Regions from separate parts of the Homo sapiens genome. Here region 1 is linked to region 2. Evidence: fine-mapped expression QTL. Tissue or cell type: thyroid. Region 2 holds a variant in brackets; the other region holds the start of a gene. All regions are shown on one strand. Distances are between the middles of the regions.

Region 1 (2,758 bases), 55 kb before region 2:
CCCAGCACTTTGGGTGGCCGAGGCAGGTGGATCACCTGAGGTCAGGAGTTTGAGACCAACCTGGCCAACATGGTGAAACCCCGTCTCTACTAAAAATACAAAAATTAGCCGGGTGTGGTGACACGTGCCTGTAGCCCCAGCTACTCGGGAGGCTGAGGCAGGAGAATCGCTTGAACCTAGGAGGCAGAGGTTGCAGTGAGCTGAGATCGCCCACTGCTCTCCAGCCTGGGTGACACAGTGAGACTGTCTCTCAAAAAACAAAACAAAACAAACAAACAAACAAAAACAAATCCTGTGACTTCCCAATCTCATCTCCAGCCCCCTGCAGCCACCACTCTGTTTTCTGTCTCTATGAATTTGACTCCTCCAAGTGCCTCTTATACAGCATTTGGCATTGTGTAACTGGTTTAATACGTTTGAGATGGTGAGAGCTTAAGGTCTACAGGCCTAAGGTTTTTTTTTTTTTGACAGAATTTCACTCTGTCGCCAGGCTGGAATGCAGTAGGGCAATCTCGGCTCACTGCAACCTCCACCTCCCGAGTTCAAGTGATGCTCCTGCTTCGGCCTCCTGAGTAGCTGGGACTACAGGTGAGTGCCACCACATCCAGCTAATTTTTGTATTTTTAGTAGAGACAGGGTTTCACCATGTTGGCCAGGCTGGTATCAATCTCCTGACCTCGTGATCCATCTGTCTCGGCCTCCCAAAGTGCTGGGATTACAGGCGTGAGCCACCGTGCCCGGCCATTGACTAAGGTCTTAAAATAGCTCTTCCTGCCTGTATAATCTCCATTATGGCAGGGCTCATATAAGAAGATGACAGTTCATCTGATGAGGAAGAAAACTTACTCCTAGTTAGATTGGGTTGAATTCTTCCCTGTTTCCAGCGGTGTCTGCTCCTGGCACCTCAGGCACAGTCAGGGGTAGGAGGTGGTGATCAGATACACTCGCTGTGAGCAGTGCAAGGGGAAGCAGGTGCCCAGAGGTGCATCCCGGTTTGGTGGGGGTGACAAACATGGACAGGTAAGTGCAGGAGTGTGTGCAATACTCAATCTAAGAAAGGTAGTTCAGGCAGAGTTCAGGGAAGATATCTCTGTGCAGGGCCAGACATGGGGATGAGATTCTGATAATTTGGGAATGAATCAGGCCCCCAGCCCCTCCTCCCTCAGACTCAGCAGTCCAGGCACCCGGCCCTCCTCCCTCGGACCCAGAAGTCCATGCTCCCAGCCCCTCCTCCCTTGGACCCAGGAGTCCAGGCCCCCAGCCCCTCCTCCCTCAGACCCAGGAGTCCAGGCCCCCAGCCGCCTTCTCCTGCAGGACCCCAGGAGCTTGGGTACCCACAGGCTACTAGATCCTTGTTTCTGTGCATGGAAATTCTCAAATTATCTCCAAAAGTCTATGAAGAAGGTAAACACACATTTCCAGATGAGGGAATAGGCTGATATAGTTGAAAGACACACAGAGGGTCACAGTCTGGAATTGACAGTGGTGGGATTCGAACCTATTTCACTCCAGAACTGCGTAGCGCCTTATACGCTGCGGCAAGTGTGACGTCATTCGAACAAACCATAGGCCCCGCCCCCGGACTAGCCACGCCCACAGGCTCCTGAAACCACCAATCCCAGCTGTGACAGCGCTCAGGACCGATGCTCATAGGTCCCGTCCCTAGGATCCCCGCCCCCTCCGCCCGCGCCCCGCCCCTCGCAGCCCAGTTCCGGACGCGGGCCCAGCCGCGCCTGCGCCTCCGCTCGCCTGTGGCTGCGTCGCGCGCTCTTCCTCGGAGCTACCCAGGCGGCTGGTGTGCAGCAAGCTCCGCGCCGACCCCTGACGCCTGACGCCTGTCCCCGGCCCGGCATGAGCCGCTACCTGCTGCCGCTGTCGGCGCTGGGCACGGTAGCAGGCGCCGCCGTGCTGCTCAAGTGAGTACATTCTAGCCCCGCGTGCGCGGTCAAGGCGGGCCCCCAGCGCAGGGGCCGGGAAGGCGGCGGAGACCCCCGCCCCTCGCACCCGGGTCCAGGCCCCGTAGCTCCCGACCCGCAGTGCCCGCCCGGAGTGGGGCAAACCTGCGCTCTGGCCGGCCAGGTCACCGGCCCAAGGTCACTCGGAGGGAAGGGCGAGCCTGGGCCCTTGTAAATGTTGCTTTCCTTCCAGACTTTTAAACTCTTTATTTTGTTGTTTTGTATTATTTATTTGTTCGTTTATTTTTAAAGGCAGAATCTGGCTCTGTCGCCCAGGCTGGAGTGCAGTGGCGCGATCTTGGCTCACTGCAGCCTTGACCTCCTGGGCTCAGGTGATCCTCCCACCTTGGCGTCCCCAGGAGCTGAGATCACACGTGCGCCACCACGCCCGGCTAATTTTTGTATTTTTCGCAGAGACGGGGTTTTGCCATGTTGGCCAGGCTGGTCTCAAACACCTGCCCTCAGGTGATCCGCCTGCCTCGGCCTCCAAAGTGCTGGGATTACAGACGTGAGCCACCTCGCCCAGCCTACTTAATTTAAACTTTCTTAAAAATTAGCCTCTGTGGCTGGTGGCCACTGTATTGCATGGTGCCCTTCTCTCCTGTGGGTGCAGTGCTGTTTACCTGCTCAGCCTCCTGTTGCTGGACACTATCTTGTTGCCAGCGTTAGCCTCTGTGGGACATGGGTGTGGTGGGCAGAGTCGTGACTCCGTAGAGGGGTCCACGTCCTAATCCTCGGAAGGTGTGACGACATTACCTCACGTGTCAGAGGTTCTCGCTGATGTGTTAAGTGAAGCATCTTTT
Region 2 (2,758 bases):
GCTCTGTAGACCATCACGGATGCCGAGCTTCGGGTAACACTCACGGTGGAAGGTAAGTCCGTCGCCTTAGTCAATACGGAGGCTACCCACTCCACATTACCTTCTTTTCAAGGGCCTGTTTCTCTTGCCTCCATAACTGTTGTGGGTATTGACGGCCAGGCTTCTAAACCCCTGAAAACTCCCCCACTCTGGTGCCAACTTGGACAACACTCTTTTATGCACTCTTTTTTAGTTATCCCCACCTGCCCAGTTCCCTTATTAGGCCGAGATATTTTAACCAAATTATCTGCTTCCCTGACTATTCCTGGACTACAGCCGCATCTCATTGCCACCCTTCTCCTCAACCCAAAGCCTCCTTCGCGTCTTCCTCTCCTATTCCCCCACCTTAACCCACAAGTATGGGACATCTCTACTCCTTCCCTGGCAACTGATCACATACCCGTTACCATCCCATTAAAACCTAATCACCCTTACCCTGCTCAATGCCAATATCCCATCCCACAGCACACTTTAAAAGGATTAAAGCCTGTTATCACTCGCCTGCTATAGCATGGGCTTCTAAAACCTATAAACTCTCCTTACAATTCCCCCATTTTACCTGTCCAAAAACCGGAAAAGTCTTACAGATTAGTTCAGGATCTGCGCCTTATCAAATTGTTTTGCCTATGCACCCTGTGGTGCCCAACCCCTACACTCTTTTGTCCTCAATACCTTCCTCCACAACTCACTATTCCATGCTTGATCTTAAAGATGCTTTTTTCACTATTCCCCTGCACCCCTCGTCCCAGCCTCTCTTCGCTTTCACTTGGACTGACCCTGACACCCATTAGGCTCAGCAAATTACCTGGGCTGTACTGCTGCAAGGTTTCACAGACAGCCCCCATTACTTCAGTCAAGCCCAAAGTTCATCCTCATCTGTTACCTATCTCGGCATAATTCTCATAAAAACACACGTGCTCTCCCTGCTGATCGTGTCTGACTGATCTCTCAAGCCCCAGCACCTTCTACAAAACAACAACTCCTTTCCTTCCTAGGCATGGTTAGCGCGGTCAGAACTCTTACACAAGAGCCAGGACCACACCCTGTAGCCTTTCTGTCCAAACAACTTGACCTTACTGTTTTAGCCTAGCCCTCATATCTGCGTGCTGTGGCTGCCGCTGCTTTAATACTTTTAGAGGCCCTCAAAATCACAAACTATGCTCAACTCACTCTCTACAGCTCTCATAA[T/C]TTCCAAAATCTATTTTCTTACTCACACCTGATGCATATACTTTCTGCTCCCTGGCTCCTTCAGCTGTACTCACTCTTTGTTAAGTCCCACAATTACCATTGTTCCTGGCCCGGACTTCAATCTGGCCTCCCACATTATTCCAGATACCACACCTGACCCCCATGACTGCATCTCTCTGATCCACCTGACGTTCACCCCATTTCCCCACATTTCCTTCTTCCCTGTTTCTCACCCTGATCACACTTAGTTTATTGATGGCGGTTCCACCAGGCCTAATCGCCACACACCAGCAAAGGCAGGCTATGCTATGGTACAAGCCACTAGCCAGCCTCTTAGAACCTCTCATTTCCTTTCCATTGTGGAAATCTATCCTCAAAGAAATCACTTCTCAGTGTTGCATCAGCTATTCTACTACTCCTCATGGATTATTCAGGCCCCCTCCCTTCCCTACACATCAAGCTCAAGGATTTGCCCCCGCCCAGGACTGGCAAATTAGCTTTACTCAACATGCCCCGAGTAAGATAACTAAAATACCTCTTAGTCTAGGTAGACACTTTCACTGGGTAAGTACAGTCCTTTCCTACAGGGTCTGAGAAGGCCACCGCAGTCATTTCTTCCCTTCTGTCAGACATAATTCTTCAGTTTAGCCTTGTCATTCCCTTCTGTCAGACAAAATTCCTCAGTTCAGCCTTCCCACCTCTATACAGTCTGCTAACAGACCAGCCTTTATTAGTCAAATCAGCCAAGCATTTTTTCAGGCTCTTAGTATTCAGTGACAGACTAATGGTCTATTAAAAACACACCTCACCAAGCTCAGCCACCAACTTAAAAAGGACTGGACAATACTTTTACCATTTTCGCTTCCAGAATTCAGGCCTGTCCTTGGAATGCTACAAGATACAGCCCATTTAAGCTCCTGTGTAGACACTCCTTTTTATTAGGCCCCAGTCTCATTCCAGACACCAGACCAACTTAGATTGTGCCCCAAAAAACTTGTCATCCCTACTATCTTCTGTCTAGTCATACTCCTATTCACCGTTCTCAACTACTCACACATGCCCTGCTCTTGTTTACACTGCCAGTTTACACTGTTTCTCCAAGCCAGCACAGCTGGTATCTCCTGGTACTATCCCCATACCGCCACTGTTAACTCTTAAAATAAATAAATAATCTTTGCTGGCAAGGCTATGCTGAACCTCCTTAGGCACTTTCTAATTAGATGTCCTGAGTCGTCCCAATTCTTAGACCTTTAATACCTGTTTTTCTCCTTTCCTTATTCCCTTTAGTTTTTCAATTCATACAAAACTGTATCCAGGCCATCACCAATAATTCTAAATGACAAATGTTTCTTTTAACAATCCCACAATGTCACCCCTTACCACAAAATCTTCCTTCAGCTTAATCGCTCCCACTTTAGGTTCCCACGCCGCCCCTAATCCTGCTCAAAGCAGCCTTGAGAAACATCACCCATTATCTCTCCATACCACCCCCAAAAATTTTTGCTGTCCCAACACTTTACCCCTATTTCAT

What was found. PIP is the estimated chance that this variant, and not a neighbour inherited with it, causes the effect.
Region 1: RDH13 starts here. The variant in region 2 is the best candidate, but not a certain one, in a credible set for the expression of RDH13 in thyroid (GTEx, PIP 0.65).

The regions. Positions count from the first base shown.
Region 1 is chr19:55,062,126-55,064,883 of GRCh38, reverse strand. It overlaps RDH13 (retinol dehydrogenase 13), which reads left to right and starts at 1,736. Exons shown (of 7, transcript NM_001145971.2): 1 at 1,736-1,916. The coding sequence starts at 1,852. RefSeq lists an enhancer at 2,426-2,758.
Region 2 is chr19:55,007,271-55,010,028 of GRCh38, reverse strand. The region is part of intron 2 of GP6-AS1 (GP6 antisense RNA 1); the gene reads right to left. Among named protein-coding and RNA genes, the nearest start is that of GP6-AS1, 2.4 kb to the right of the region's middle. The variant T/C (reference allele first, on the strand shown) is at 1,228.